Homo sapiens: one gene and its partners. The protein of the gene in region 1 purifies or fractionates together with the protein of each later gene. This does not show direct contact. Each region holds a gene or a part of one and is shown in the gene's direction. Other genes may lie near its edges. The genes, in order: IGSF3, MAPKAP1, TSPAN15 and PRKAR2B.

Region 1 (6,235 bases):
AATAGGAACCCAGGGACTGTTGACTCACTCATGCTGGTCTGTTTACCATCAGCCTTCCACTGCTGTGATATCATTTATCGCAGCAAGCTTCTTTGTGGTCTGTGCCCCAGACTCGTCCCTGCTGGAGCCACCTGCTGATCCTGCCCCCATATCAGTATTCATCAGAATCTCTGGTTGGATGGCACAGTTGACTTGTGGATCTGTTATTTGACCATTCCCTGTGTGTGCTTCCTGTTGCATATGCATATCCCCAACAGAATCTTCAAGGAATGCCATCACTGTCAACGTTGCCATTGATCTAGCTTAGTCTGATCCCCATTGATCACATAGTGTGACCCCTCAAGGGGTGCTTAGGCAAGACTTTCAGCCAGTTCACATGTTTGATTATTAGCTCTTAATCAGTTCTTTTCTCTTTTAATTGTGAAGCATAATTGCCTTGCTTCCTTCTGATTTTCTTTAGCTCAAAACACCCTCCAATTACATATCCTTAAATACAGAAGCAGTAAGGGAAATGTTAGCACTCATTTTCCAAATGTTTATGACAATATCTTGGTTTGGCTATTAAATATTGTACATTAAAATTGACAAAGCCATAAACAAGCTTCCATGAGGACAGCCTCTAGTGGTGGAAAGCCGACTTGTCAGAGGGTGTATTCTGCTGGGATTTTACTGATGGGCAGTCAGGATGAATATTTAATACCCTCTGGATGTTGCCAAATCGGTTTTCTTCTATTTCTTATTGCTGACCCGGCAGATTGGGATAGCAGAGGGCTTTTCTTTGACTTCCATGAGTCCAGAGCATGTGAACACTGGCTCTCCTTTCACATTCTGAGGGATGGCTGCCCCATCCCTCAGAGGACTGGCCTCTGCCTTCTTTCAGGGGAGTCTGGGGTTCTCCTTCTTCCATCCCAGGTGGCTTCTGCCTGTTGTCTGTGCCAAGATAGAATGGGTGTCAGTGCAAGAGCCCTAAGAGGAGAGCTCAGCCCCTCCCAGATCCCTCAGGCCTGTTGTCATGGTAACACCGGGGCACTTGTTATTGGCATCAAGGAGCCAGGGTCACTGCCCTACCTGCAGACAGGTAAGGCAGGGTAGGGCACATCTGGGTAACCTTCATTAGCTATTTCCACCTGCAGACTCTTGCTGCTTTCCCCTTGCCCCTCCCTCCCTGTCTCTCTGCATGCATTGAGCACCTACTAAGTGCCAGGTTGCCATGCTGGTGAGGCTGCTGAGATGGGTGTGTCACGTTCCTGCCTTGCGGGCTCTGTGGGAGGCAGCAGGCCTAGGGACAAAGGAGAGCAGAAAAGCGTTACAGGTGTGGAGGCAGAGCCAGCACAGGGCATGAACGGGGGCAGGGGGCGTGAGGAGGGAATGGGGTAGGGGTGAGGGTGGGAGGTTGGGAAGGAGGAGTGGAGCATTTCAGGCTCAGAGAAGAGTGTGAATAAATATAGTCACGGAGGGTGGGAGCAGCATGCTTATCTTGAGATGACTAAAGCATGGGGTCTGGGGAGGGTTCACCCCCAGGCAAGCTGGCAGGGATCAAGAAGTCCCTTTTGTACATGGGAGCATGGGGTGAGGGTGGGCATATGTAATAGCTAAAAGCAAGGACAGACCAGACGGCCTGGGTTTGAATTCCAGCTCTACCACTAAGCCAGCTGTGTGACCTTGGGCAAGTGTCTTTATAAAATTGGGAATAATATTTATTTCATAGGATTGGTGAGGACCAAATAGTTAATATTTATAAAGTGCTTAGAATAGTGCTGAGCACATAGGACCAGATGAAAGTTTGCTAAATAAATGAGAATATCCTAAACTCAGAAATTAGGACTTTAGCTCATACCCAGATCATATACTCCATTTTTGTAATAATTTATAATGTTCCCTTTACCCAGAAATGAAATTCATATACAATATAACATTCCTAATCATATCTTTAAAATTTGCTATATTGTCCTAGTTGTGGGATAAAGAAAGTTTTTTTTAAAAAAAGTAGTTCATAGTAAAATAATGAGTTTCAGTGCGTAAATGCTCAGGACAGCTATGCTAGGAGGCACAGTCACAGTCAACGCTGTCTCTAAATGCACACTGACAGTCACTGTATCAGACTTGGCACCATGAGCAGGACTGCCATCCTGACAGGGTTTCTGAAGTCCTGAGTAACTCTTGCTACAATTCTGAACAAAACAAAGGAAAATCCTCTCTTGACTGACCTGGCATATTTTAAAACCATGCAAAATAAAAGTATTGTGATTATAGTAAAACGAAAGTAGGTTCTAGGCCCAGAGGCATAATTTTTGCCCATATGAATGTCATTCGAAAGTCACACAGGACACGAGGCAGAGTTTTGTTGCATGGAGTTGTCCCAGATACAATTTTACATCTTTAATGGCTTTATTCCATTGAATATATACCCCTCCCCAAATCAATATGGCAACCAGAGACCTGCTTGCAATTAGCTGCCTTATTGAGAACTGCTGTCACGGGCTGTGGGGTGGGCAGCCGTGGGCAGTAGCATGCCCCATTTGCCATTTAGGGAAATCCCCTGGCTGTGGCTAGGCTGAGAGGGAGGGAGTGTCATATGCAGGCCAATTACAAGAGCCTGAGAAAGAGATCATTGAGGGCCCAAATAGGGAATGGTCATGTGGAGAGAGCAGGGAGCCAAGGGGTGTTAAGGACAGAGGGACTCAGGGGTAGTAACAGTTTGACTGGCAGGCGCCTGTGCCACTGGCTTCCCATGCAGCTCACCCTGCATTCTTTCCTTGTCTCTCATCTGACTTGCTTCTCTCCACTTGAAACATCTCCTGCCGCAGCCACTGGCCGCCTCTATCTCTAGCATTACTGTCTGTTGTCTTTAATAAAGAGCAGTGTCTTCCTCCCTCAGTGCCCATCTCTTTGCACGTGCCACTCTGGCTGCTGCTCACAGCACTGCACAGAAACCACCTTCTCCAGACTTACCGGCAACCACCTCAGCAGCACGGCTGTTGCTTCTCAAACTTGAATGTGCATCAGAATCAATTGGAGGGCTCATGAGACTGCAGGTTGCTGAGCCTTACTCGCAGTTTTTCTGACTTAGCAGGGGCTGGCAGATTCCCAGGTGATGCTGATCTGCAGATCCATGGCGTGCACCCTGAGGGCCACAGGTGGTCAGGATCAAGTACAAGCTGCAGGCCCCTTGCAGTGTGGCCGAAGCTTACCTTTCTAACCTCATCCACTACACCTGAGCACTTGCTCCTCCTTGAATAGAGTGCACAGGGTAGTTGTCATCTTTTTCCTCTTGTCCCCTCTCTCTGGCGTGCCCTTTGATTCTCCTTCTCTGCTTGTTTCTCAGGGCCTAGCTCAGGGGCCATATACCTTTTGAAATGTTCTCTTTTCTATCAAAATCAGAATTGCCCCTCCTTTTGAAAAGTAACCACATTTATTCAACCATTCATTGATTAGTTTAACAATGATTGGGTCAGAGTCCCTGCCCTGCATATGCTTAGAATTTTGTAAGAAAGAGAAGATTTTAAGAATTACCTTCGTTGTAAGGCAGCAGTAACACAGCTATAGTAGAGCGTAAGGGAATCCTTTATTGAAGAAATAAATGAGTTTTGAGTGAGAAGAGCACGCACAGAGTGGAATCCGAAGGGAGGGTAGGCTGGCTGAGAAAGCTGCTGCTGGTCTCCGCTGCGAAGTTCTTCCCTCTTCCTGATGTCTCACCTTGAAACCACCCTATCCTGGCCTGTAACAAACACAACAGCCTCTCCTACCATACAAAACACAGATCTTCCAAGTTTTAATCACAAGCCTGGGAAGGAAACTCTCCAGTTGCAGAAAGAAAGGGCCACTCCCTCAAAGCAGGGCCTGGCCTCTGGGGGCTGCTGTGAAGGCAGCTGCTGGCGTGAGCTGGAGCAACTCTCGGACCCTCTTCCTGTCTCTTGCTGGATTCTTTCTTCCTCCTGCCAATTCACTGTTGGGGGTTAACCAAGCCTCACTCTTTTCTTTCACGTCTGCATTTATGGCCTCTCAAAGCCCATTCACTCACACGGCCAAGTCCAGGGTTTCTCAGGCTTGAAGCTACTTGTGAATCACCTGGGGATCTTGTTAAAGTGCAGATTCTGACTTACTGGGTCTGGGGTGGGGCCTGAGAGTCTGCATTTCTAACAAGCTCCCAGTGCTGCTGGTCCGAGAACAGCACTTTGAGCAGGAAGATTGCCACTTATGCTTGACAACTCCCATTCTAAGTGTTGAACTTTGAACTTGGGACAAGGCACAGAAACCAAAAAGGAATGAGAATAGCTAAAATTCACTGGGTGTTTGTTATATCCCAGGTTCTGTGCTAAACTCTTTTTATAGACCATTGCTTTTAGTCTGCACAAAACTCCTAATGGAGATAGAGACATTGTTCTTATTTTGCAGATGAAAACACCTGTGGTCTCTAAGTGGGCAGGGCTCTCCTAGCTCTGTGGAGGAAGGTGGTGCACGCAAGCTGTACACCGCCCAGGGCAGGGCTCTGGCAGGACATGGGAGGGCTCCCTAATTATATGTGGAGATTCCAGTCTCCCCTGTGCCTCAGGAAAGGTCCTACCTGCCCTGGAGATGTGGGAGGAAATCCAGAGCATAGAATAGGAGCTGACCCCTTGCCCACCTGTCAGACGTGCACCAAATTTAAAAAATGCCTCTCTTTCAAGCTTCTCAACACTTCACAATATTTTGACATGGGAAGGAAAAAAAATGGAAATGCTTTGAAACATTTCTCTTCCTTGAATTCATGTTCTCAGACCATGTGACTGAATAGAAGTTTAGTCATAGGATTCCAGTTTAACATATGCAGTTACTATAGCAATTGAGGTTTCCTTAGTAACAGTTGCAAAAATAATCCGGCCCCAATTAATAATACATTTTAAAGCTCTTTCTACTCCATGCTGAACAACCCAGTTTTTTTGGCCAAGAACCAGATAATTCAGGTGGTGTCATTTGCACTGATATAGATATCATTTGCATGCGGTGAATTGGGTTGGAAAGGAATGAAAAGGGAGCCGGTTGTTTCAAGTATTATAGGAATCCAATCTGAAAAGTCGACTGGCAAGCGAATGCAAATCTAGTTTCCAGAGCTTGGGAGCTTAATGGTAAACCCTGTCCTGGATTCCTAGTGTGCCCTAGAGGACTTTCTGCATTTGAAGAAGGGAGAAGGCAGAAGATTGGACTTGCTAACAAAAAAGATGAACCCGGGAGGGTGGGGCCGTGGCACACAGGATTTCTCTCTAAGTGGTGCCTGGTGTGTTCTTGATGGCGTGAGAAGGTCTGTGGGTTTGTGAATTCAACAAGTCTTCCTGGAGAGAATGTCCGATTTACTGCGGGAGATGCTCCGCAGTGTTGCTCAGTCATGGCATTGGGAATTGGACTTTGCCACACCTTGGCTTGCTAAATCCTTCCATCCATTCAGAACATTTGTCTGTGTGTTACAGGGAGACCAAGTGGCAGTCTGTGGCTTTCACAAGTTTTGGTTCTGTGATGCATGGGACTCAATCAACCCTTGATGCTGCCAAACCAAGCTTAAGCCAGCTGGCAGGCCAGGGTCATGACCAGTGGGCTGGGTCCTGGGTCTGGATGCAGTTCCTGGGGTTGAGCTGGACTAAAGAGACAAGAGTCTGACCAGTAGAGTGCTGGAGCCTGGCCAGGCATCCCTGCCCTGCCCCTGCCCCTGCCCTCCACACAAGCTCGGTTGGAGGAGGCCTAGGTTGCTGTCCCTGGGTGGAATCTGCACCTTGCCCCTGCTTTCTTTCTCAGCTGGGAAGTGGTTTGGTCCCTGTGGCGGAAAAACTAAGTGTGAAGAGAGTGGTGGAGGTGGAACAATTCTTGTACTATTAGTTCCCTAAGAGGAACTTAGAATTGTTTTTTTGTTTTTTTTTTTTCATTTTTAGTAGCGGGAAAGGCTTGGGTAGGGGAATGCAGAGCCGAGGTTAATGATGATGGGGTGGGTGAGATCTCAAATCACCTTCCTAAGATGGATTTCATTAGACCTTGGCTTCTTGCCACTGGCAAGGTGAACATCGTCATTAATTAGCTGCTGGGGAGGCGCTCCACAGGCTGCCCTCTTGTCTGTTTTTGGAGCAGGACAGTGAGGAGAAGGGAGGATTGTAGTTGGCTTTGCCTTGTCCCGTGGTTTACTGTCTTCTCAGCCTTCTCTCTCACTCCCCCAGAGGAAGCCCCCTCTCCCCCCGCCCGCAGCATCCTCTAATTACCTGTTGCCGTGTTT
Region 2 (6,235 bases), on another chromosome or scaffold:
GAAAATCTGGTGTTATAAGTCCTTCTGAAAGTAAGTATCTTCTAGGACTGTTCCTGGAAACATAGTCAATCCAGCTTTCATATTCCTTGTACTTCTCAACAATTTTGCAGGGGCAGGGAAGTCACTCAGATGACTTGCAGTGTCCTCTATCACAAAGGAAGCACAGACTTATTTTATGTGCCACGAACTTACTAAGACAGATGGGATATTGACATATTTTAGGACTACTTTAAGCAAGAATTGATCATTGAAATTATTGATTTTTTATCATTATTATTAATAGCTAACATTTATTTAATTACATGCCATGTATTTTTTTGAGCATTTTACCTGCATTATCTCCTGAAGCTTCCATTTTATAAATGAAGGAAAAAAAAAAGGGAGGCTCAAAAAGGTAAAGTATTTTGACTGAGATCTTATAGCTAACGAGTAATAGGGCCAGGGTTTGAACCCTTTCTGTCTCTAGGGCCTAGTACCTAACCGTTGTCCTGCAATATTTTCTTTGTTGAGTATTTTCACTTAACTGAGAGGGTGCTATCTTGTTACTAGAACAAATATTATTACAGTGTTTTTTGTATGTTTTGTTTTGTTTTGTTTTTAGAAGACAGGGTCTCACTATGTCACCCAGGCTGGAGTGCAATGGTGCAATCATAGCTCACTGCAGCCTTGAATGCTGGGGCTCAAGTGATCCCCCCACTTCAGCCTCATGAGTAGCTATGACTACAGGCATGTCCCACCATGCTCAGCTAATTAAAAAATAATAATTATTATATATATATATTTTTGTAGAGATAGAGTTTTGATTGTGTTGCCCATGTTGGTCTTGAACTCCTGGACTCAAGCAGTCCTCCTGCCTCGGCCCCCCAAAGGGTTGAGAGTACAGGTGTGAATCACTGTGCCCGGCCTCATTACAGTTTTAACAGGACTGAGGAAGCAGTTTTTATAATTAAGTTTCTAAAATAAGAAGTTGATTGTATAGTAGGTAATTTTGATTATAAATTTTATTTTAAAAACACAGGCCAGGCATGGTGGCTCACGCCTGTAATCACAGCACTTTGGGAGGCCAAGGCGGGCGGATCAACTGAGGTCGGGAGTTTGAGACCAGCCTGACCAACATGGAGAAACCCCATTTCTACTAAAAATACAAAATTAGCTGGGCATGGTGGCGCATCCCTGTAATCCCAGCTACGCGGGAGGCTGAGGCCGGAGAATCTTGAACCTGGGAGGTGGAGGTTGCAGTGAGCCAAGATCACGCCACTGCACTCCAGCCTGGGCAACAAGCGCGATACCCTGTCTCAGAAAAAACACAACAACAACAACAACAAAAACACAATACTATCTTGACAGGAAAATATATTCATTGAGCAACATTAATTTGGTGGTACATCATTTTTATAAAACCCCTAGTAACTCTGAAAGCATTGTCTGTGCCCTTTTAAACACTTCACAATCATATGACAGGAGGGGAAATGTAAACTGATGAAATAGAGTTTTGTACTTTAGCACATCATTTGAGGAAAATACAACTTGTTCCCCCATGACCTTATAAAGTAATGAGAAGATTGCATGATAGTGAAGGGAGAAAGAAAGGAAAATATATTGTTTTAACAGTAGTTATGTGCTTCGAGTGGCCTGACTTGTAAGGAGTTGCTGTGATTTGTTTTGCAAGAGTGCAAGCCTTCCTTTCTGATTCTATAGAGATCTCATTGACTAGAGCTGCAGCCCCTAGTGCTTATAAGGATTTCCTTTCAGCTTAGACTAAATCCTTTTAAGCTCCACAGAACAGGGATAAATGTTGATTTTCAAGGTGGCATTTTACTACACTGAATGTGTCTGAAAAATGATTCAGTCATTTTCTGCCTTATTCTTAAATATTTGCTGTGTACATCATGTTTCTAGGTAGGTGAGCTCGTGAAACAATATGAAGAGGAGAAAATAGCCTTTTAAGGAAATTGGCCCACAGAAAGGATGGCCTTCTTGGACAATCCAACTATCATTCTAGCTCATATTCGACAGTCACATGTGACCAGTGATGACACGGGAATGTGTGAGATGGTTCTCATTGATCATGATGTTGACCTAGAGAAGATTCATCCTCCTTCAATGCCTGGAGACAGTGGGTCAGAAATTCAGGGAAGCAATGGTGAGACTCAGGGCTATGTATATGCCCAGTCAGTCGATATTACCTCAAGTTGGGACTTTGGTATTAGAAGACGCTCAAACACAGGTAAACATTGTGTTCTAGTCATGTCTTCTGAGCTTTAAATCAGTAAACAGTCTTATGGAATAATGCATAATATTGGAATAGGCTTAATGGGGGATGTTTCCGGGTATTAATAGGAACATGCATATGTCAGACTAAGAGTGAGTCTGAGCAACATCTCCATCTCTGCGACTGCGAATGGAGAGGGCCTCTAGAATATTATTAGAAGTAGACAGAAGGGGGATAGTGAAAAAGTTGGTTAGGAGAGACATGTTGGACATTTCTAACAAGTCATTGTGTAGAAAGGCAAGTGGACTGGCTTTGAGTGTCTTCACACAGCAACATTAGTCCCAGTAGGTAGACTACCCGGAGACAGATTTCAGGTTGACATAATAAAGAGCATTTAATACAGAGAGGTGACCACCCAAAGAGAGCAGGCACTTCTTGCCCCTGGAGGAATTGTGGGGGAGTGGGGAAATGGGAGGAGACACCTGAGTATTTGTTAGGGCTGGTTTTAGTAGGATTCTATACATAGGGTGTGAGATTAGAAAAGGGGCCCCTGTTTTTGATACTTCGCCTTTATTTTCTTAAATTGATCACCTTTTGATTTTTCTGGCTTGAAAACACTCAACTTTGGTATACACGTATTTAGTCATTAGCTTTAAAAGCTTATTGCCCATTTTCCCACTTATATTTTTTTGGTGGCCTTGTTTCAAGGGGAATGTGATGAACCAAGGACTTTTTTTTTTACTTAGACAAATTATTTAGAATACATATTGTAGTTCTAATATGACAGGTATTCTAGGAGGTAATTTTTTTTAGATAATCAGAAAATATAATCTTCAAATTAGCAGTAACCTGCTAACTCCCAGGAAAGGTAATGGCAAGGAGATATAGTAGAACACTGAAAATACTTACATATTTATTTTCATGGTCCAAATGTAAAACACACATAAAGGAATATTGGAGGTAGAGCTGGATACAATTTACTGTGAAAGGCACATTCAAGTTTTGGTTCAGAATTCAGTATCTGTGACATAAGAATAATTTGCTCTCATGATGAAAATAATTAATAGCATTTCCCAGTATCTAAAGGAACTTTTGTCAAAATAGGATTTGAGTGAAGGTTTGAATATAATTTAGAACCATTGATTTTCAGTTCTCTAGTTGAAACTGACTTCCTTGCAGGTTATTGAGATGATATCTTATATGACAGGTTGAATGTATTTCAGTGGGAGAATGCTGCTAAATTGAGAGCTTTATGATTATATTACTTTGGCTGTACCCTTCACATTTATTAATTGCAATTGAATGTAGTTTTCTTCAGTGTTGGTTAGATATAGTGACATTGTCAGAATGCTCTTCCCAGCATAGTTTAAATTTCTGGTAAGATTATTTTCAGTGTTTCCCTACCACAATGCTAAGGCAGAAGTGTATAATTTCCTATCTTGAAAGAGGCGGAAAAAGAGATGTATTTATTTTCTATTAGCAAAATGCTGGGATAGGAAGCTGAAGATTAGCAAGAGAAAACTGATTTCAAGAGATGGCATCAATTGTGACTTTCTTTTTTATTGTGGTCTCTGTATGCGGCAGTTGTTAAGTGCATGCTGGGTGGTATTTCTCTAAAGGATCAGTTCACTGATTTTTGAAGGTTGATCAGCCAGTGGCAATATAATCACAAATGCATAATTTTAGGTGACTCTTGTTGGAATTTCTTTAGGTAGCACTTAGATGCTAATAATTAATTGAGATTGTAGGTTGTCTTAGTGACCAAAGAATTTACTTTTTAATCCATGCAGCATATCTTAAAATTTTGTAAAAGAAAAATTGTTCTTTTTAAGATTTGACTAATGTTACAAAGATACAAATCATTTATTTTACTACCTATAAACTGTTTCAGCCCACTGAAGAAAAGCTATGCTAATTTATATAGCTTTGACATTTTATAATTTTCATGATTTTTAGATAAAGGATTTTATATTTAAAACTTTAATAGTCTAGTCTGAGTTCATTTATCTTTAATTTTTGAAATGGGTAGAGTAATTCATAACAGTAATTTTATTCCTGTAATGTAATATTCACTTCAGTTCATTTGTGCATTAAAATTCCTTTAAGACCGTTATTAATGATTTATATAATGAAATGTCATATTAATCACAGAAGTTTTCACATTTTATTATTCTCTTCCATGTTAATACTATCTTTATGATCTCTATTAGTGTTTTATATCCTCTAATTTCAATTATAAATCAAGAATATTTTCATGTTTTTGTTGGTATTTGCTTTTCAGGGGTGCCACCTTTAAAATTTTATGACTTTTTCTCTACATATGCAATATAAAACATCTTTATTCATGTAAAGGTAGTTAATTATGTCTTTGTTTATGGTAAACTTTCATTGACAAACTTACAGTTATAATATTTCTTTTCAAGCTCAAAGATTAGAACGACTCCGAAAAGAGAGACAAAACCAGATCAAATGCAAAAATATTCAGTGGAAAGAAAGAAATTCTAAGCAATCAGGTAAATGGAAATGATTTTAATTCTTAATTTGAGATTTATATATTTAGTTTATTATATAAGAACTTTTATTTTTAATTCATCCTTTTAAATCCTCTGGACTTAGATACCTCTAGTGTTTTGAGCTTTGAGCTCTTTCTCTTGTGTGCCTTGACCCTCTGAAGCTATATGCTCTTTAGTTCTTGGCTTTTTGGCCACCCTTCACTCTGGGTCACAGGGATTGATGTGTGCAGGGGACATTTTTTACAAGCTGTCATGTCAGTATTTTTTTCTGATTTTTTAAAAAAATATAGGCCAAGGAGTACCCTATGATTTGATTTTTATTATTATTATTTTTTTTGAGATAGTGTTTCACTCTTTTTGCCCAGGCCGGAGTGCAATGGCACGGTCTTGGCTCACTGCAGCCTCTGCCTCCCCGGTTCAAGCGATTCTCCTGCCTCAACGTCCTCAGTAGCTGGGATTACAGGCGCATGCCACCACACCTGGCTAATTTTGTATTTTTAGTAGAGATGGGATTTCACCATGTTGGCCAGGCTGGTCTTGAACTCCTGACCTCCAGTAATCCACCCACCGTGGCCTCCTGAGGTGCTGGGATTACAGGCATGAGCCACTGTGCCCAGCCGATTTTTTTTTTTTTTTTTGAGACGGAGTCTTGCTGTGTCACCCAGGCTGGAGTGCAGTGGTGCCATCTCGGCTCACTGCAGCCTCCGCCTCCCTGGTTCAAGCAATTCTCCTGCCTCAGCCTCCCAAGTAGTTGGGACTACAGGTGCACACCACCATGCCTGGCTAAGTTTTGTATTTTTAGTAGAGATGGAGTTTCACCATGCCAGGCTGTTCTCGAACTCCTGGCCTCAAGTGATCCACCTGCCTTGGCTTCCCAAAGTGCTGGGATTATAGGCGTGAGCCACTGCGCCCAGCCCCTGTGATATTTTGGATGAGTTTCCAGGTTACAGATTTCTCTTGGCAGTTCCAACCTAGACTTTTCCTTGCCCCATTAGTGGGCCTAGTAACAGTCTTTTTTGCATATATGCAAATTCTTTTCCCTTAGTGTAAAAACCATTATGTTGCTGGTATTATTAGCATTTGCTGTATATTTTCATATAGTATGTGTATAAAGGCTGGCCATATTATATACTTTCAAAGCTTCAGTCTCAGCAAGAAGAAAAGACTTGGGGAGAAAAACAATTTCAGAAATAAAATGCTATTAAAATATTTTATAGTGGTTATATCATGTTTCCTAGACTTTCTCTTTTTCTTCTCCTTTAAAAGAAATATCTGCAGTCTGTCTTCTGTATCCTCCCAGCACCTCCCAATATCATATCGGCATGTAATAGATGCCTAATAAATATTTGTGGATTGGCTCCATTGTTACACAATAATTATAAGTCTAATAATATTAAGGTTTATTATACTAATAGCAGCCTCTACCTCGTGCTCTACTAGGTACTTTACATGCATTACCTCTATTGCAGTGATCTTGCAAGGTGTAGGTATCGTTGCTATTGTTTACAGA
Region 3 (6,235 bases), on another chromosome or scaffold:
GGACTCTGAAAGGTGTCTGGCTACCAGGACGTGTACTGCAGCCCTGGTTGAGCCCTCCAGTCCCAGCTCCCTGCTTCAGCTGGCTGGCAAAGCTTTGCATGGTCCAGCCTGTGCCGCCCTTTCATCCTCATGCTCTGCACTCTCTCTGTTCCAGGCTTGTTGGCCTCCGCACCTGCTGCTGAAATACAAGCTTGTTTCTGCGTGGGGCCTTTGCATGGGTCGTCTGGCTTCTTTCTGTTTCCATGTTTCAGATGAAATATCCTCTCTACAAAGAGCCCTTTCATGACCTGCCAACCTAGAGCTGCCCCTCCCCACTTTCCCCCTATTTCTCCATTTCCAGGTTGCACAGCACCTTTCCATCCAGTGCTCACTCTCTGTCTCTCCACTGGAATGTGTTCCACCTGAGCAAGGGCTGCCTTGCTTTTGCTCACCCTGTCTCTCCAGTGCCCAGGACAATGCCAGGCACATACCAGCCATCAGGAGGGTTACCAACTACTTCCTACAGGAGCAGGGAGGGGAGGCAGGGAGGGGCTCGGCTAAGGGGAGAGCTCCAGGCAGGTTGTGAGGTGTGGGTGCTCTCCTTGCTAAGGGCAGGGCCAGCTGAGCTGGACGGGGTGGCTCCTAGGGTGGGTGCGAAGGTTGGTTGAGGTGCAGGGACTTTCACAGAATCATGCTTGGTCTCTGGGACTTTAAGGGCCATCTTTTCCAGCCTAGCACCTGCATTTGGGGACACGAAGATGAAGAAAGTGGAGGCCAGTTGTCAAGGAAGGACCTTTCCTCCCAGTGCCTAGTCACTACCCTGATATCCCACCAAGAGGCAGCCCAGCCTTGGCTTCCATACCTCTCTAGTGACAGGGGGTTCACTACCCTCTAGGCAGCCATGCCACACTTTGACAGCTCTGACTTGAAAGTGTACAGCCTCTCCCTGCCCCAGGGTGACCCACATAATAAACTGCCTCCGTCTCCTGACAGGGCCCCTTCCTGTCGTCTGAGCAGGGCCTGGGCGATGACGGCAGCTCCTCTTTCCTGCTTGCTTCCCTCAGTTCAAGTGCTGTGGCGGGGAGGACTACCGAGATTGGAGCAAGAATCAGTACCACGACTGCAGTGCCCCTGGACCCCTGGCCTGTGGGGTGCCCTACACCTGCTGCATCAGGAACACGGTAGACACTGCTCCTGTGGGGACTGGGGGGCTGTCGGGGACCCCAGGTGGTATAAATGTTCTCTTTTCTCTCTTCCCAACTTGAAGATGGGTGGTGTGGGTGGATGGCAGGGAAGTAGGAGTTGGTGGCAGAGCGGAGGCTTTCCTGATTCTCAAGGGCTCCTGAAAGTGGAGCTTCTGGGGGTCGGGGGTAGGGAGACCATGTCTTTCTTAGTGGTGTTGGTTAAAATCTATTGAGCACCTACCTTGTGCAGGCCTGCTCTGGGCACTTTGGTGGTATTTACTCATTTAGTATTCACGACAACCCTGTGAGGTATGTACTGTTATTTTACCCACTTTACAGATGAGGAAATTGAGGCACTCAAAGGCTGGGTGTCTTGCCCAAGGTTGGCAGGGCTGGGATGAAGTGCAGGCAGCTGTTGCCTGAGCTACACTCTGGAGAACTGTGCAGGCCAGGTGAGGGCAGGAGGGAGAGGTGCCCAGGCCAGGGGAGCTTAGCGGGGGTAGCTGGCTCTGCAGCATTAGTGGAGGCAGGCAGGACCTGCACCTTGGGCATCTCCATTGGTCTTTGGCCTTGAGGTCCTGGTGATCATCAGCAGCAGAGTGCTTGGAAGGGGGTCTGGTGACGTAAATGCCATCCTCTTCCTCTCCCCAGCACGATCCTCTCGGGTCTGTCACCTTGGTCATTTGGGATGATGTCTTGTGTTGTCAGCGCTTAAGTGAAAGGCTTCATCAGTCCTTGTGTTTGACAAATGTGTCCAGAAACTGTTTCAGGATTGGAACGAGGTGGAGAGCTTTGCAATTACTCATGGCCCAGATAGTCATGGAAAGTTTTTCTCCTGACATTGCCACCATTCTGTGCCCACTGCTGGATTCTGTAAACTGAGCAGCTGCGGGTGGGGGCCTCGCCCATGAGTCAGAGAGCCAGTGCCAAGTGCACTAGCTCTAAAAAAGGCCGGGCCAGGAGGGAAGCTTTGTTTGGAAGTGTTAGCTGCCATTTTAGGGTAGTTCTCTGGGAAGTGGGGTGCTGAGGAGTAGCAGAGTTTCCAGAGAGGCCTGCGTGGGGTGATCCTGAACCTCATCACCCAGGGCAGCAGCATCTGAATACCTAAGCTGAGATGTGGAAGCCAAACTTGTATTCATTCATTCATTCATTCATTCAACAAATATTGGCTGAGAACCTACTCTATGCCAGACACATTTCCAGGTTCTGGGGGTGTAGCAAACAAAGTCTCTGCCCGCAAGGAGGTGACATCCTAGTGGAGAAAACTGACAAACAAAATAAGTAAAAGATAGAGGATCATAAATGCTGAGTAGAAAAAGAAAGTAGGGCATGGAGGATTGCAGTTTGGGATACTGAGAAAGGCGGGATCTGGGTGAAGCTCTGAAGAAAGTGAGGAAGGTGTCTGGGGGAGGGGCATTCCTGGCAGCAAGAACAGCTGTGCAAAGGCCCCAGGTGGGAATCACCCCAGGGCGTTTGAGAAATGCACAGAGTGGCTGGAGCAGAGGGAGCACAGCGGAGGATGGTAGGAGGTGGAGTCAGGGAGGTCATGGGTACCCCGAAGGCCACAGGCAGGACTGTGGGGCACCCTTGAGTGATGGACCATACAGGGCTGCATGGAAGAGGGGCACTCTGACTTGGTTTTACAAGAATCAGTCTGGCTGTTGTGAGGGACATGCTAGATGCAGGGATAGAGTTAGGGGCTGATATGCAGTGATCCAGGGGTCATAGGTCATCTTGTCCAGGAAGGTGCTCTTGGATCAACACCTGTGGAAGTGGGAGCCAGAAGCGGGATTGGGCAATGAAGGGAGTTGAGCAGTGATGCAGCCTCAGCTCAGTTCGGCTGGAGGCCTCAGCCACATCTATGAGGACAGCCCTTCAGAGTTGTCCCCTACTGGGGTGAGGGGGCCAGGCCTTCACACTCCCACCCACATTGACCAGGCATTGCATGAGTCCAGTGGTCCACCCAAGAAGGGACTTGCTGGCTCTGTTCAGCCAAGAACAGACTAATACAGCAAGAGGAAAGAGAGGGATTGATTGATGATAAGGAATTGGCTTGTGTAATTATGGAGGCGGGCAAGTCCCAAGATCTGCAGGGTGAGTCGGCAGGCTGGAGACCCAGGAGAGCTGAGGGTGGAGTTCCCATTCAAAGGCTGGTCAGGCTTCAAACCTAGGAAGAGCCAGCATTTCAGTTCAAGCCCGAAGGTAGCCAAGCAGGGAGAATTCTCTTATGGTCACTGAGGAGAGGGCAGTCTTTTGTTCTGTTCAGGCCTTCCCTGATCAGATGAGACCTCTCCCCCTTGGGCAGGGCCATCTGCTTTACTTAGTCTGCTGATTTAAACATTAGCCTCATGCAGAAACACCCCCACAGAGACACCCAGGATAATGTCTGGCCAAATATCTGGGTATCCCATGGCCTGGTCATGTTGACATATAAAATTAATGATCACATGAAGTAGTTATTGCAGGGGGCTGACACCTAAGGGCTCCCCACAGCATCCCTGCACCAGGGAGGGGAAGACAGATGCTTGGAGCTGGGTGGTGGTGGTGGTGGTGGAAGTGGCAAACCGTGGTGACATTCTGGCTGTATTTTGCAAGTAAGCCTACAGGATTTGCTCGCATAGCAGATGTGGGCGATGAATGAAAGAGAGAAATCAAGGAGGATACCCAGGTTTTGGTCTGAGCCACAGGAAAGACGGGGCTGCCACTGCCTGAGAGGGGAGGACTGCAAGGAGGCAGGCTGGGTGACCAGGAGCTCACCGTGGACGTGGGGGGTTTGAGAGCCTGTTCAGCATCCCATCAGGGGTGTCAAAGATGCGGTTGGATATAGGAGTCTGGAGTTCTGGGAACGACTAGGCAAGGGGTGTAAACACGGACATCATCTGCAGATAGGGTAGAATCTAAAGACAGCATCTGAATGAGAGCACTGAGGTAGGGAGGAGCCTTCCCCTGGCCGGGGTTATCTGACCCTGTGTTACACATGACCATTGAGTCTCCCTGTGCCACCACACCTGGATGATTTTCTCTAAATGTGAAACAGGGCGTTCGCTTCCTCCATAGAACTGGTTGATTTGTGTCCAGATCTATTTATTTTACACTGTACTATTCAACCTGGGATTTGAATGAGTACACGGGAAATATGTAGTGTAAAAAACTAAAATAGCATTAAAAATCAGGACTGTGGGAATTGTATTCTCAGATAGGAGGCCTAGATGATGGAGAAAAATATAAAATCCTGCTATCTAAGCCTCAGGACCTCATGGACTCACTGAAAAGGAGCTGAGCCTCGTGTCTGGTGGCTTGGAGCAGGGCTCCCCTACCTCCAGGCCATGAACCAGTACCGGTCAGTGGCTTGTTAGGAACCAGGTCGCACAACAGGAGGTGGGCAGAGGTTGAGGGAGCATTGCCACCTGAGCTACACCTCCTGTCACATCAGCAGCAGCATTAGAGTCGCATAGGAGTGTGAACCCTATTGTAAACTGTGCATGCAAGGGACCTAGGGTGCATGCTCCTTATGAGAATCAAACTAATGCCTGATGATCTGAGGTGGAATGGTTTCATCCCGACACCATCACCCCCCACCCCCCCGCACCCCATCCTGTGGAAAAATTATTTTCCTTGAAACCAGTCTCTGGTGCCAGAAAGGTTGGAGACCACTGGCTTAGAGTTTCCTGGCAACCAAAAGGAAAAGGGAGACATGGTCTGTTACATTGTTACTGTTCAGCAGAACATACCAGCAGAACATACCAGTTCTTCAGGGAAAGTAACCTTTTCCCTAACACTCAGCTTTAAAAGAAATGTCTTATATGAGCTTCCAATAGAGGATTTGAGCCATAGAAGTTCACATAGGGCTGTAAAATCTGGTTATACCAGGATATATCCCTCGGAGATGTTGGTGCAGAGGGCAGCGTGCTTCTACATTAAATGGCTCCAGACTGCTGTGCCTGCTGAGCTCTTGGGACCAATTTTCACGTACCTCCCCTCCCTTGTTGTTGGCTACCCCTTGGGGGCCTGTCGCGAAGGCCCCTCTCCCTGTCCCCATTAGCTGCTCAGTCTTTTCAGGGTGAGAGGATGCACACACAAACATTGCTGTGATCTTCTGGCTGCCCAGGAGTCCCCCTTCTGACTTCCTGTCCTGTGGCCCCGTGCAGGATGGAAGAGGCTACTGGACCCTGGTCTTGGGGCCTGTGAACTTCAGCAGAGCCTCTTGCAGAATATCGATTCTATGGTCAGGCAGGTAAACCCAGGCAGGCTTTACTTTTGGAAAGACTATGGATGCATCGTATCCCCTCACCCCTTGGTGAGGGGCTCTCCTGGCAGGGTGAGGTGAGTCCCCCCTGGGCCTGGAGAAGGGTTCTGGGCTCTGATGCCAGAGAGGCCTCTGCCAGTTGCCTGTGTGCTAAGAGACTCATCCCCCGAGGTCACCAGAGCTGGCCCAGTGAAGTCACTCTTGTCACCTCCCTACGTACCATGCAGCTTACCTATTTGTTATGTTCATTATCTCCCTTTCTACAGTGTAAGTTCCATGAAGGCAGGGACTTTGTCTTGTTGTTCTGTATTTCAAGTGACTAGAACTGGGATTGACATGCAATAGGTGCTCAGTTAATATTTGTTCAATGAACAAATGAATGAACCAATGAGATGGAAAGCACTCACTCCCATCATGTGCCCGTGCACCTGCTCTCCAGGCCTGACCCTCTCCATAGGGGTTGTGTTTATGGCCTGGAAGGGCCAAAAACACTGGCTGACTAATGCCCAGTGGGCACTGGGCATGGCTGGGACTGAGGCTACCTGGAGAACCAGCTAAACCGAGGGAGGTCGTCTTGCCTGCACATCAAGCCCTGACATTTAGAATGACCTAGATGACATCTGAGGCCCAACCCTCTCTCGGAAGGAGAGAAGACACCCTCCCTTTCCTTTGCAGGGGCTGGAATTGTGAACAAATCACGCCAGCCAGCATTCTTGTGCTCCTCCATGTGCCCAGCCCCGTGATAAGCACTTTATATGTGTATCTCACTTTATGTCCAAAACAGCCCTAGGAGGTGGGTTCTGTGATCATCACAACCTATTCATTC
Region 4 (6,235 bases), on another chromosome or scaffold:
CTAGTAATAGTAGGTGGATTGCTTTAGGGGTTGAAATTGGGAAACCAAAAAACCCCTTCTCTTACCATCTATTACTTTGGGCTTTGGAAGAAGGGTGGTAGAGGGAGAAAGATAATGAAGTCAGAAGGGAAAGGGGGAGGGAGAGAGCAAGAGAGAAGTAAAACCAGTTGTGAAGGCTTGCTTGAGTAACTTACACTTTGAAGACATACAATGGAAACACCTAAACAGAAATTGAAGCATTAGTACTTTAATTTTTCTATCAAAAACCAAACCATTTAGCTATTATTTTAGATAAGACAGTTACCAGCTTTTTTTTTTTTTTTTTTTTTTTTTTTTTGTGGATGCACATAAATTGATGTGCTGTGTCTGGGTAGAACAGGAGTGAATATTGAATGGTTATTTTATTGTTGCAAATCTCATTCCATGGATTCCAGTAAATTTCCAGCCGTCAAGATTTTGTTAACAGCTATGTTGAAAAACAATTGTGTTTCTTTTTCAGTTGTGCAAATACAAACAGGGGACCTATGAATCCATCAATTTGGGGTTTATTTTTGACCCATTAAGAAAATCGTTTGTCAGTAGTAGTAGTAATAAAGTCCTACAGTGGAGGTTGGGGAATGATGGAATATTTTAAGGTGAGAGATTCAGTGAAGAAGACTGAAGTGACTAACTGCAGGGTCTACTTTAGAAGTGTGGAGAATCACAGAAAGTGCTGAGATCTGGGATGGCCTATTAGAAACAATGTGTGAAACTTGGAAGGTAGGATAGTTCTTATTTTAAGAAAAAAGAAATGATTCGTCTTACATTTACTCTCTTTAGACTTCATTTTTTTCTGTTTTTGTTTGTTTTTTGGTAGAGATGGGTCTTCCTTTCTTGCCCAGGCTGGTCTTGAACTCCTGGCTTCAAGCAGTCCTTTTGCCTCAGCTTCCGAAAGTGTTGGAATTAGAGGCGTGAGCCACTGCTCCCTGCCTAGACTTAAGACACCATCCTTTTGTCAGAGATGGCCTCATAGATAGTATGTATGATCAATTTTGTTAATAGATGGGGCAGGTGAGAGACAGAGAAGTTCCTTATCCAAATTTGGTAGGTTTTGGCCTTATAAATTTGAGTTTGTTCATACAACTGTTGCCAACATTTTGTGCGCTATTTATATTAACTTACATCATATGAATTTTTTCTGTCTTCCATCAAGTTGATTGATAAGGTTTAAAAGGATGGGCTAAAGAAAAGTACTTTTGTCTTCAGAATTTCCAGGTTTTTTTGTTCTTTGATTCTTTTTCAATGAAGTGAAATCTAATATTAGACTATATTTTCCTATCACTTGCTTAAGAAGAGACAATGGAAAAGAAACAAGAATGCAGTGATTTTTCTGAATTGAATGAATTGTTACTGTGTTCTTGATCCTGTTCTTGTCCTTCCTGTCTTATCTATATCATCTAGTTGTGGTTGGGACAGTCACAAAATCCTACTCTAAAAACCTCACTATGATGCTTATCATTATTTTATGAGAGCGAATTTTGTGCTTCACAAATTCAAAATGACTCAGACGGTTTCATTATGTAATTTTATGGAAAGAATTTGAGCTAAAATTTTCAGGTCATGGCTTACATGACAACAAAACAATCAAATAAGAAAATCAGAACTATAAACAGTTGGTGTAACATTTATAAATGTTTCAGCAATAGGCTCTGCCATGTGTAGCTTAATATGTTTGGAAACTAAAAAAAAAAGTCTTTCCAGTTGCTGCTGTTTAAAAATGTTTCTTAATTAAAAAAAAGACAAAAGGTCAAAATGTAAACACATGTTCCACATAAAAGTGAAGCCAAGAAGATATACTGTATACAGTTATTCCTGTATCTGTTTGACTAAGGATGACATTGTTTAATTTACATTAGCTGTTCCAAGACAAAATAGTCCATGGGAGTGATGTTGAGGGGAATTTGGGGGGTAAAAAGAGAAGGAAAAAAGCCGTTTGTTCCATTTGTTCTAATATATTTCAGTTACACCCAAAGAGCATCTTTTTCAAAGGTCATGTTGAATTAAAACATGATTCGGCTGTTTCGTTCTCATTATTATAGAAAACTAATGTCTTTTAAATGGTGTCCTTTTAGGCCGGGCACGGTGGCTCATGTCTATAATTCCCAGCACTCTGGGAGGCCGATGCGGGCGGATCACCTGAGGTCAGGAATAGGACACCAGCCTGGCCAACATGGTGAAACCCCATCTCTACTAAAAATACAAAAATTAGCTGGGCGTGGTGGCGGGCGCCTTAATCCCAGCTGCTTGGGAGGCTGAAGCAGGAGAATCGCTTGAACCCTGGAGACGGAGGTTGCAGTGAGCCGAGATTGCGCCACTGCACTCCAGCTTGGGCAACAGAGGTATACTCTGTCTCAAAAAAATAAATAAATGGTGTCCTTTTTATTTAATACTAGTTATTATTAACATTTTTGACTACTGATGTATCAGATGTGGAACAGTGCTTTACACATTGTCATCTGAACAGATGCTTTACACATATGTGATTTAGTCTTCCCCAGAGTAATTGGTGGAATCAAGGTTTGAACCTGGTAATCTGACTTCAGGGTCTTCCTCTTCAACCACGGTTTATACACTTCATTTCAGTAATTCTTTTAGCAGTAACGTGGTTGAAAATAAGCACATATCAAAAAATAAGCTACCTACTTTTCCCTCTAAAAGTTTGCAGGCTAGCCCTGCATTGATCTCTCCCTTTTACAATTTGCATTCTCTGTCTATTCAACCCAAATTAGCATTTCATGTACCTTAGAAACTCAGTACATTTGTTTATTTTATTTTATTTTGTTTTTGACAGAGTCTTGCTCTGTTGCCCAGGCTGGAGTGCAGTGGTGCCATCTTGGCTCACTGCAGCCTCTGCCTCTGGGTTCAAGTGATTCTCCTGCCTCAGCTTCCTGAGTAGCTGGGATTACAGGTGTGTGCCACCATGTCTGCCTAATTTTTGTATTTTTGGTAGAGACAAGGTTTTTCCATGTTGGCAAGGCTGGTCTGGAACTCCTGGCCTCAAGTGATCCCACCTGCCTCAGCCTCCCAAAATACTGGGATTATAGGCAAGAGCCACCACACCCAGCCTACATTTATTTATTTTAGAAATAATCACCTCATGTACTGAGCTGCTTAATTCTCTAAATTTATTTTATTATATACCTTTATTAGCAAAATATATTTGAGTGTACACCCCAATATATGTTGATAAATTTTATACATGTGACAATATATTGACTTATATGTATGATAAAGCTTCCTACAATATAAATTTTGAAAGGAGAAAGTAAAAAGCAATTCTAAGCAAGTTGTAATTTTCTCCTACATCCCAACATATAGCCTTATACACTGTTTTGGCATACATGAACCCCGTTTTGGAGACTACAGCTGTAAACAATACCACTTAAATTGATACTCTAGTAATATATAAAGTAGCCATGATCAATTTTGGTTCCCTGATTCAAGCTTCTAGATTATAAAGAGTGTGTGTGTGTGTGTGTGTGTGTGTGTGTGTGTGTGTGTGTGTCTTTTTTAAAAGACAGTCACTCGGTAAGTTAATTGACTCAACAGAAGTTGGCAGAATACAGAGGAAAATTCTATCTTATAAAAAGGAAGTAAAACTACGTTACCTGAAGGGGAAAATCCAGGCTTTTTCTTTTAAAACCTGTTTTCCTGTATATACCTTGAATTCCAATTGTATAGTGGTAATGTTTTTGGTGCAACATTTGTGGATGGGACAAAGAGAATCGTATTATAGTTTTCTGGTTAGGAATCAGTAAATTATGGAAATACCAGTCAGAATTAGAAGAAAGTCTAAAGTTTAGAATAGTTGAAAAGAAATGCAATTTCATAGAGTATTTCAGGTTATTTTGTTAGGAGAGAGATCGTTCACTATTTGCTTTCTTGTAACTTTTGAAAAATGTTTAGCATGTGCTTGGATTACCTATTAAATAAGTGTAAAAATACATGAAAGAAAGGCAATTCTTTTGTAAATATGCATTAAGTAGTAAATAAAACACAGTAGGCCGTGTGTGGTGGCTCACAGCCTGTAATCCCAGCACTTTGGGAGGCCGAGGCGGGCGAATCATGAGGTCAGGAAATCGAGACCATCCTGACTAACTTGGTGAAACCCCGTCTCTACTAAAAATACACACAAAAAAATTAGCCTGGCGTGGTGGCAGTTGCCTGTAGTCCCAGCTACTCGGGAGGCTGAGGCAGGAGAATGGCGTGAACCCGAGAGGCAGAGCTTGCAGTGAGCTGAGATCGCAGCACTGCTTGACAGAGTGAGACTCCATCTCAAAACAAAACAAAACAACAAAACAAACAAAAACCACGGTATATAGCGGCACATGACATGATTCTAAATTGATATAGCCAAATATTCTTGTCTTAAGTCATTCTCTTGGTCCTGAATTCTCACTCCCCTCTCCCTGTCTTTCTGCTAAATCTCACTCTTTTCCCAAAGGTTTAGTTTATATTTTACCCTACCAAATATTTTTGCAAGTTTCCCTCCTTGACGTTAATACTATCAATATGGTAGGATGAATATGGCCTCCATCAGTCAACTTTGCAGATGTCAAGGGTCCTCAGTCTAGGTAGGCAAGAATGTGCAGGAATATACCCTCTCTTTCTAAGTCTTTCCTGTATGTGTTGTGCTTTGCTCACAGTAGGTGTGCAAATGTTTTTTAAAATATTGAACACTGTCTAATGGTAAATGTGTATGAATGTAAAATGATTGAAAACTTCTTAGGCATGTAAATATTTTAAATAGACTTTTTTTTATTATACTTTAAGTTTTAGGGTACATGTACACAACGTGCAGGTTTGTTACATATGTATACATGTGCCATGTTGGTGTGCTACACCCATTAACTCTTCATTTAACATTAGGTATATCTCCTAATGCCATCCCTCCCCCATCCCCCAACCCCACAACAGGCCCCAGTGTGTGATGTTCCCCTTCCTGTGTCCATGTGTTCTCATTGTTCATTTCCCACCTATGAGTGAGAACATGCGGTGTTTGGTTTTTTGTCCTTGTGATAGTTTGCTGAGAATGATGGTTTCCAGCTTCATCCATGTCCCTGCAAAGGACATGAACTGATCCTTTTTTATGGCTGCATAGTATTCCATGGTGTATATGTGCCACATTTTCTTAATCCAGTCTATCATTGTTGGACATTTGGGTTGGTTCCAAGTCTTTGCTATTGTGAATAATGCCACAATAAATACATGTGTGCATGTGTCTTTATAGCAGTGTGTTTTATAATCCTTTGGGTATATACCCAGTAATGGGATGGCTGGGTCAAATGGTATTTCTAGTTCTAGATCCCTGAGGAATCTCCACACTGACTTCCACAATGGTTGAACTAGCTTACAGTCCCACCAACAGTGTAAAAGTGTTCCTATTTCTCCACATCCTCTCCAGCACCTGTTGTTTCCTGACTTTTTAATGATCGCCATTCTAACTGGTGTGAGATGGTATCTCATTGTGGTTTTGATTTGCATTTCTCTGATGGCCAGTGATGATGAGCATTTTTTCATGTGTCTTTTGGCTGCATAAATGTCTTCTTTTGAGAAGTGTCTGTTTATATCCTTTGCCCCCTTTTTGATGGGGTTGGTTGATTTTTTCTTGTAAATTTGTTTGAGTTCATTGTAGATTCTGGATATTAGCCCTTTGTCAGATGAGTAGATTGCAAAAATTTTCTCCCATTCTGTAGGTTGCCTGTTCACTCTGATGGTAGTTTCTCTTTTGCTGTGCAGAAGCTCTTTAGTTTAATTACATCTCATTTGTCAATTTTGGCTTTTGTTGCCACTGCTTTTGGTGTTTTAGACATGAAGTCCTTGCCCATGCCTATGTCCTGAATGGTATTGCCTAGGTTTTCTTCTAGGGTTTTTATGGTTTTAGGTCTAACATTTAAGTCTTTAATCCATCTTGAATTAATTTTTGTATAAGGTGTAAGGAAGGGATCCAGTTTCAGCTTCCTACATATGGCTAGCCAGTTTTTCCAGCACCATTTATTAAATAGGGAATCCTTTCCCCATTGCTTGTTTTTGTCAGGTTTGTCAAAGATCAGATAGTTGTAGATATGCGGCATTGTTTCTGAGGGCTCTGTTCTGTTCCATTGGTCTGTATCTCTGTTGTGGTACCAGTACCATGCTGTTTTGGTTACCATAGCCTTGTAGTATAGTTTGAAGTCAGGTAGCATGATGCCTCCAG

The links.
Region 2: the proteins of IGSF3 (region 1) and MAPKAP1 fractionate together in Homo sapiens (co-fractionation; one large-scale study listed by BioGRID). This does not show direct contact.
Region 3: the proteins of IGSF3 (region 1) and TSPAN15 purify together in Homo sapiens (co-immunoprecipitation; one large-scale study listed by IntAct). This does not show direct contact.
Region 4: the proteins of IGSF3 (region 1) and PRKAR2B fractionate together in Homo sapiens (co-fractionation; one large-scale study listed by BioGRID). This does not show direct contact.

What each region holds. Positions count from the first base shown.
Region 1 is NC_000001.11:116,590,028-116,596,262, reverse strand, and holds part of IGSF3 (immunoglobulin superfamily member 3 isoform 2 precursor), read left to right. Parts: intron 1-521; exon of another isoform or gene 522-930; intron 931-1,194; exon of another isoform or gene 1,195-1,279; intron 1,280-2,952; exon of another isoform or gene 2,953-3,112; intron 3,113-6,235.
Region 2 is NC_000009.12:125,668,308-125,674,542, reverse strand, and holds part of MAPKAP1 (target of rapamycin complex 2 subunit MAPKAP1), read left to right. Parts: intron 1-1,899; 5' UTR 1,900-1,968; coding exon 1,969-2,227; intron 2,228-4,635; coding exon 4,636-4,725; intron 4,726-6,235. UniProt on the Homo sapiens protein: Component of the mechanistic target of rapamycin complex 2 (mTORC2), which transduces signals from growth factors to pathways involved in proliferation, cytoskeletal organization, lipogenesis and anabolic output.
Region 3 is NC_000010.11:69,497,237-69,503,471, forward strand, and holds part of TSPAN15 (tetraspanin-15), read left to right. Parts: intron 1-972; coding exon of another isoform or gene 973-1,043; coding exon 1,044-1,160; intron 1,161-6,235. UniProt on the Homo sapiens protein: Part of TspanC8 subgroup, composed of 6 members that interact with the transmembrane metalloprotease ADAM10.
Region 4 is NC_000007.14:107,050,026-107,056,260, forward strand, and holds part of PRKAR2B (cAMP-dependent protein kinase type II-beta regulatory subunit), read left to right. Parts: intron 1-6,235. UniProt on the Homo sapiens protein: Regulatory subunit of the cAMP-dependent protein kinases involved in cAMP signaling in cells. Type II regulatory chains mediate membrane association by binding to anchoring proteins, including the MAP2 kinase.